Homo sapiens: one gene and its partner. The protein of the gene in region 1 interacts with the protein of each later gene in a biochemical or structural test. Each region holds a gene or a part of one and is shown on either strand. Other genes may lie near its edges. The genes, in order: RNF139 and UBE2G2.

Region 1 (3,813 bases):
TGGTGATAATTCATTGAGGTGGGAAAAGGCTTTAAACATAACAGAAGACCCAGAAGTTCCAAGGAAAAATCTGAAAAATTTCAGTACATAAAAATAAAAAGCTTTTTTATGGCAAAGCTTAAAAAAGAATCCTTAAATGACAAACTGAGATAAAATACTTCTATCATAAGTGATTCACGTTCCAGTAAGAGTTTTACCCTGCCAGGGAAGCTGAGGCAGGAGAATCGCTTGAACCAGGGAGTTGCAGGTTGCAGTGAGCCGAGATCGCTCCACTGCACTCCAGCCTGGGGATAGAGTGAGACTCTGTCTAAAAAAAAAAACAAAACAAAACAAGAAAAAACTTATACTCCCTTAGGAAAATGCCTAAGACAAGCAATTCACAATAAACAAAATGCAGATGTTCAATAAGCAAGAGAAAAAGTATTTAGCCCTTCCTGCAGTAGCTTGATTTTATGGGGGAAAAAAAAAAGTACCTAGCCTTGTTTATAATTAAATACTGTCAAGACCGCTTACGGTGGCTCACGCCTATAATCCCAGCACTTTGGGAGGCTGAGGCAGGCAGATTGCTTGAGGCCAGGAGTTTGACACCAGCTTGGCCAAATGGCACAACCCGTGTCTACCAAAAAATTAGCCGGGTGCAGTGACTCCTGCCCATAGTCCCAGCTACTGTGGAGGCTGAGGCACGAGAATCTCTCGAATCGGGGAGGTGGAGGTTGCAGTGAGCCAAGATCGCGCCACTGCACTCCAGCCTGGGCGATAGAGCGAGACTGTCTCAAAAAAAAAAAAAAAGTCAAAAAAAATTTATCAGATTGGTGAAGAGTTCAAAGTTTTATTAGTTTTGCAAAGGTATTTACCTTTTTGAAATAGGTAAATTTATACAATTTTGGAAGACTTTTTTTTTTTTTTGAGACGGAGTTTGCTCTTGTTGCCCAGGCCGGAGTGCAATGGCGTGATCTCGGCTCACCACAACTTCCACCTCCCAGGTTCGGGCGATTCTCCGGCCTCAGCCTCCCGAGTAGCTAGGATGATTACAGGCAAGCGCCACCACCCCCGGCAAATTTTTTTCTATTTTTAGTAGAGACAGGTTTTCTCCATGTTGGTCAGGCTGTTCTCCAACTCCCGACCTCAGGTGATCTGCCCACATCGTCCTCCCAGAGTGCTGGGATTACAGGCGTGAGCCACCGTGCCTGGCCCGGAAGACTCTTAATTTCAGTGTAAAACCATTTGGCAGTATCAACTGTCATTTACAACTGACTTCTCAGTGTTTTGTTTTGTTTTTGAGACAGTCTCACTCTGTCACCAAGGCTGGAGTGCAGTGGCGTGATCTCAGCACACTGCAACCTCCACCTCCCAGGTTCAAGCGATTCTCCTGCCTCAGCCTCCCAAGTAGCTGGGATGCCTGGCTCGTACAACTTTTGACTCACAATTTCAATTCTAGGGAATTGGCCTAGAGAGATAGTTTGCTTAAGGACTATGGGCAAGCATTACTGGAAATAACAAAGCAACAAACTTAATCTAAATATGTATTGATACAAATCTGTTCATTGTATTAGGTCTAGCCATGCAATAAAGTTCTTGAAAGAAATGAGATAGCTATTTTTGGTGCCGAAAAAGACTTCAGAAAACCTCTGAAGTGAAAAAACAAAGCCGAAGTAATTATCACTGGCAGAGGAATAGACAGAGATTTCTCAACAGTGGCAGTATTGACATTTTGGACAGGATAATTCTTTGTTTGCGGATGGGAGCTCTCCTGTGCACTGTAAGATTTTTAGCAGCATCACTATCCCCTGCCCATTAGATGCCAGTAGCACCTTGCACCCCCACACCCCAGTGTGACAGCCAAAACTGTCCCTGGATATTGCCAAATCATGGTTGAGAACCATTGGGATAGACAAATAGATTAGTACTTAGCCTTATTTATAATTACATAGCCCAGAAACAGACACCAATGTATATATAGAAATAATGTGTTTCAGAGATAGAATTGAAGTACATTGAGGTAAATATGGACTGTTGAATTAATGATCATTTTGTTACACCTTTGGAAATAAATTATACTAGATGTCTACCTTATGTCAATATATAGACAGTCACTTCTAGGTTGAGCAGTGTAGTGAGACCCTGTCTCTGCAAAAATAAATATTTAAAATAATAGCCATACTTGGTGGTGGGTGCCTGTAGTCCTATCTTACTCAGGAGGCTGGGGTGAGAAGATCGCTTGGGCCTAGGAGTTCAAGGCTGCAAGTGAGCTATGATTGCATAACTGCACTCCAGCCTGGCTGGGTGACAGAGCAAGACCCTGTCTCTTAAAAAAAAAAAATAGTCATTTCTAAGTGTATTCTTACCTAGATGTATATGTAAATATGAAATGCAGAACTTTAAATTTTTAGAAAAAAATATGGAATATTTTATTTTTCCAATCTTAGATTAAGGAAGAAATCCTTAAAAATATATAAAAGCAAATACATAATGAAGATTGATAAACCGAATGATATTGAGGTTAAAAACCTATGTTAATCAAAAGATCGCACCACTGCACTCCAGCCTGGGCAACAGAGCGAGACTCCATCACTAAAAAAAAAAAAAAAAAAAAAAGGAAGTCAAATCTTGGGTAAGGGGGAACTACTGTACTTACATTTACCCATTTATTATAAAGGCAATTACAAAGGACACAGATGAATTAACCCGATGGAAGGAGATGTACAAGGTGAGACAAAGAAGGAGAGAAGAGGAGAAGGGGCGTGGAGCTTCAGTGTTCAGCTATCTGAGAGCTCACAGAACTCAGTCCTTTTGGGCTTCTATGGAAGTTCATTAAATAGGCAAGATTGATTAGATCACTAGTCATTGGTTTATGGACTCAAGTTTCAGCTTCTTTCTTCCCAGAAGTGGCGGCTGGGGGTAGGAATCAAAGTTATAACCCTTAATCACTGGGCTGATTCCCCTGGCTACCTAGCCCCCATCCTGAAGCTATCTAGGGGCCCCCAGGCACCAGTCATCTGATTATTGTACAAAACAGTCATCACTCCAGAGATTCCAAGGATTTTAGAAGCTATGTCAGAAAATGGGACAAAGACCAAATATTAATATTTTTTTTATGATATCACAGATGGGAAAGACAAACTAGAAAAACTTGCTTTAACTCTTCATTTAACACCTCTCTGTAGGGTTTGGCTTTTTAAAATCCATGTTCATATATTTTTGATAAAAGCATACTTATTATAAGTTTAGTTTAAAAGCAAAAGTTTAATTTTGTGTTAATACTTAGAATACCAGGTTTTTTTTCAACCTAAAATGAGAATCCAATAGAAATGTTTTCTTTATAATTTATCAAGTATACCAACAGATTAACAACATTTCAAGACACTTTGTTGTAAACTTCATTGCGGAAGGCTCCCTTGGGAGTAAGGTAGTAGTAACATTTATTTCTGTGCTTTTCCATATTTATTCTGTCAGGTATTGAAATGTTTTTCCACAGGTTGCTTTTTGTTTTAGAGGTATTTCGGGTACTTGGAGAATTGTAAATATTATGTTTTGTACCCTGATTTTTAGTCATAAGTTTCCAAAAGAGGGTAAGGGTATGAATAGACTTTACACATAAAAGAGTGAAACACTTTGTTATGTAACATGTATAGTAAGTTTTTATTTTTTCTTTTGTTTTTATTTGCCTGTTTTTGGTAATCCAAATTGAAAAGGCCTGAACTCTTTCATGAGTTGAGTTCATATATAGTTTCAAAGTTCCTGAATTGATTTGGATACCTGCCTCTTTTTGGCTACCTTGAAAACTCTAGTGAACTCTCTTAATCACTGGAGAAT
Region 2 (4,355 bases), on another chromosome or scaffold:
ACACTATGCATACTTGTGAAGTTTGTATTGTTAAATTTCATTTGATTTGACAAATCCGTGTTAAGAGTATACGATGTCCAGGTACAGAGGCTGCCCCAGAAACAAGACAGAAGTAGGCAGGGACCCATGGCTCTCATGGAACACGCTTTTGGTTAGAGGCAACAGATAAGGGTAATACATTTATAGCATGCCAGTAAGTTCTATAGTACGGTGTGTTGAGTAGGTGTTGCAGAGAAAAAGGTATGCGGTGAAGGCCGGGTGGTGACGGCCTAGGCCACACTGAAGAGGCAACATTTGAGCAAAGACTGAAAGAGCAGGTGGGAAGAGTCGGGGACAAGAGCCGCCAGAAAGTGTTTCCGGGGAGGGAAGAGTCAGGGACTCTGAACCAGGCCAGGGCAGCTGGAGTGGAGTGAGAGGGAGGGAGGGTCTGGGAGTATGGCGGGGTGACCGGAGGCAGAGCAAAGCACTGCAGGACTTCAGCTTTACTGAGTGAAATGGGCGGAGCAGAGTGTGAATGTGATCAGACTTCTTTTCAAGGGATCATCTGCAATGCTGGAAAGGAAAAGACAAATGATAGATTATTGCAACAAACAGCCAGGCAAGAGATGCAAACTTTTTTTGCAAAGGTGTGTGTGTATATACATCCTTGCACCGGACAGCCACGAAGCACCTACTGTGCTGTGAAGTCAGTAAGGATGTGGGTTAAAATCGCTCACCTCACAGCGGGTCAATCGGGAAAGCACACCCACTCACTACAGCCATTATGGGAAAAAGGGCTCGCCCCTTACAGGATCCTCAACTGTGGAGAGGCCGGGAGCCCACGCGGGGCGCTGGGGAGTCTCTCAGCACCCCAGGGGTTCGGGCAGGGACCTGAGCCGCGCCCTCTCTCCCGGGGGTGCCCTGGGGTCGAGGCTGCTCGGCAGAGCCGGCGGTCAGTTCGAGCCGCGGGCCCGAACAGGGCTCTCCCCGCGGCTCTCTCCCTCGGAGTAGAAGGTGCTGGACCCGAACTCCAGCGGAGCCGCACAACACGTGGAGGAAAAGCGCCAGGACAGCTAACCTTCCCACCTTTTCAAACCTGAAACCCGGCCGGCTGGGGACGGTTGGAATGTTCAGTGCGTACCCGCACCTCAGGCCCCTTGTCTCCAGCCCCAGACCGCCCCGCGACCATCCTCCCCACCCCCCGACCTCTTATCTCGTCCCCGCCCTGTCTCCCCAACCTCCATCCTCCCCTCCACAACCCCCGTCCTCCCGCCCTTCGGCCACGCGCGGCTGGCACAGAACAGGCAGTTAGCGCACACACACTGGAACAGGCGCCACCGTTCAGGAAGTCTCTACAAGACCAGGACCCTGAGGCCTCTGGAAGTGCCGGGACCGAACCAACCCCGCAGAGCGACTAAGGCGAGGGCAGGAGCCAAGAGAATCGTAGCCGCGGTCGCGGGTTGAGCTCCCACCACCCGGACAGCGCGCCTCGGCGATCGCGCACGCGCCACGCCCCGGAAGAGTTCCTGGGCCCGCGACGGTGGCCCGGAAGCAGTCCCCGGTGTCGGGGCAGGAGGCACGCGCGCGGCTGAGGCGAGGTCGCTCGGCGCAGCTGTTGCGGGGCCATGGCGGGGACCGCGCTCAAGAGGCTGATGGCCGAGTACAAACGTGAGTCTGGGGACCCGGGCCGTCAGCAGCGTCCCGCGTTCCTGCTCCCGGGCCCGCGTCGTCCGGCGGGGCTGGGGCAGGGAGCCTGGCGGGGGAGCCGGGCCCGGGGCCTCCACCGTGAGCCCCCCTGTGGGTCCCGCGGAGTGCCGCGCCCTGCGCCCGCTGCCCACTCTCACGCGTGAAGTCGTGAAGAGAAGCCTTCCCAGCATCAGTAAAGGCAGCGCCGGCGCCGTGTTAGTTGAGAGCACACACAGTTGAGTCTTTGCGGGCTTGTTTTTTTCTCTTCTATTTTTTCTTTTCTTGGCAGCCTTGAGAACGTGCAGTGAGAGCTTGAGGAAGAAGGCCTGACTTGCTGCTGCGGAATTAGGAGGGAAAAGTGTATGCGTTAAAAGGGGAAAGGCTCGTTGGTGGAGCTTTGAAAGGTCAGATTTTGGCTTTCCCTCTAATGAAGGAAAAGGGTTTTTGAACAGTGCCACCTGTCACTCCTCCTAGGTAGTGTTGAGGAAACCTCTTGAGTGCTTTCCTACCCGGTAAATTAGATATTTCTAATGTCTGAGGAGAGCGAAGGGAGAAATGAGAACCTAGGAACACTCGGCATTCCATCGTTTTACACCGAATGCCCGCTTGGAAGAACTGCTGCGAGAAGTCTTGGAATACCATTGTGTTGAAAGCGCCAGGAGCCTGAGTCGCCGATGGAGACGAGATAGTAGCCGGCTAAGAGCAGGGCCTGAGTTCAGACCCGGCCTCTCTGCTTGTTAGCTCTTTGACCTTGTTCCTCTCTCTGTCTCTGCAGTTTCCTTGTCTTAAAAGGTTAAACTTGATACTGCAGGTGAAGTGCTTAGCAAAATACCTGATGTGTAACCCTTAATAAAGTTAGCTGCTGCTTTTGTAATTAGATTGAGGATAATTTTGGAAGAAAGTTAAGCTAAAAGAATGAATGTGAGAAAAAAAATAAGTGGTGAATATACATGTAGCTTGATTTCGTAAAACTATTGGTGACACCGCCCAGTAAGAGTTGATGTTTGGCTTAAGCAGACCAAAACGTTGCAAATACAGGCTCACTCACGTATGGTCATTCTTCCCTTGGTATCTGGAGGGGATTGGTTCCAGGCCCCGCTGCAGATACCAGAATCCTCGGATGCTCAAGTCCCTACTATAAGGTGGCGTGGTATTTGCATTTAATGTATGCATAGCCTCTCATAACTTTTAAATCATCTCAAGGTTACTTATAGTACCTAATGCAATGTAAGTGCTGCACAAATAGTTACACTGATTTTTTTTACTTGTATTTTTAAATCGTCATTTTTTATTGTTATTTTTTTCAAATATTTTGTATTCCTGGTTGGTCGAATCCATGGATATGCAGCCGCAGATACACAGGGCCTCCTGTAAACGTTCAAATAACGCTCGCCACCTAGTGTCTGCTAAAGCAGAACATAAAGGCACACCTCAGTTTCCCGCGCGCTTTGCTTTATTGAGCTTCACTTCGCAGATCTTGCATTTTTTACAAGTTTACAAGTTTTTTACAAGCAACCCTGCATGGAAGCAAGTCTGTTGGCACCATTTTTGCTCGCTTCGTGTCTCTCTCTTACATTTTAATCTATTACTGTGATCTATGATCAGTAATCTTTGATGTTACTATTGTAATTATTTTGGGGCATCACAAACTATGCCCATAAAAGATGGTAGTCCTAATAAATGTTGTGTGTGCTTCACTGACTGGCTGTTTCCCCATCTCTCTCCCGGCCTCTCTCTTCCCTGAGACAAAACAACATTGAAATTAGGCCAATAGTAACTGTACAGTGGGCTCAAGTGTTGAAGTGAAGAGTTGCACTCTACCCACTTCAAATCAAAAGCTAGAAATGATTAAGTTTAGTGAGGAAGGAATGTTGAAAGTCAAGATAGGCTGAAAGCTGGGTCTCTTGTTAGCCAAGTTGTGAATGCAAAGGAAAAGTTCTTAAAGGAAATTAGAAGTGCTGCTCTGTTGAACACAATGAATGATAAAGTGAAAAAGCCTTACTGCTGATATGGAGAAAGTTTTAGTGGTTTGGATAGAAGATCAAACCAGCCATAACATTCCTTTAAGCCAAAGCCTAATCCAGAGCAAGGTCCTAACTCTTCAGTTTTATGAAGGCTGAGAGCAGTGAGGAAGCTGCAGAAGAAAAATTGGGAGCTAACAGAGGTTGGTTCATGAGATTGAAGTAAATAACCTGTCTCCATAACAGAAAAGCACAAGGTGAAGCAGCAAGGTCTCCAGAAGATCTAGCTAAGATCAAGATGAAAGTGGCTCCTAAATTAAGCAATAGATTTACAAGGTACGTAAAATAGCCTTATACGGTATTGGGAGGAGATGATGCCATATACAACGTAAACAGCTAGAGAGAAGTCAATGACTGGCTTCAAAGGACAGGGCGACTCTTGTTAGGGGCTAATGTCGGTCACTTTAAGTTGACTGAGTTGAAGCCAGTTCTCATTTATCATTCAGAAAATCTTAGGGCCCTTAAAAATTATGCTAAATCTACTCTGAGCTCTAGAGATGGAAAAACAACCTGGATGACAGCACATCTGTGTACAGCATGGTTTACTGAATATAAGCCCACTGTTGAGACCTACTGCTCAGAAAAAAAGATTATCTTCAAAATACTATTCCTGACAGTGCACCTGGTCACTCAAGAGCTCTGATGGAGAGGTATAAGGAGATAAATGTT

What was found.
Region 2: the proteins of RNF139 (region 1) and UBE2G2 form a complex in vitro, tested with the Homo sapiens proteins (one study listed by BioGRID).

What each region holds. Positions count from the first base shown.
Region 1 is NC_000008.11:124,477,832-124,481,644, forward strand, and holds part of RNF139 (E3 ubiquitin-protein ligase RNF139), read left to right. Parts: intron 1-3,813. UniProt on the Homo sapiens protein: E3-ubiquitin ligase; acts as a negative regulator of cell proliferation through mechanisms involving G2/M arrest and cell death.
Region 2 is NC_000021.9:44,798,998-44,803,352, reverse strand, and holds the start of UBE2G2 (ubiquitin-conjugating enzyme E2 G2), read left to right. Parts: upstream 1-1,532; 5' UTR 1,533-1,604; coding exon 1,605-1,647; intron 1,648-1,954; exon of another isoform or gene 1,955-2,069; intron 2,070-4,355. UniProt on the Homo sapiens protein: Accepts ubiquitin from the E1 complex and catalyzes its covalent attachment to other proteins. In vitro catalyzes 'Lys-48'-linked polyubiquitination. Involved in endoplasmic reticulum-associated degradation (ERAD).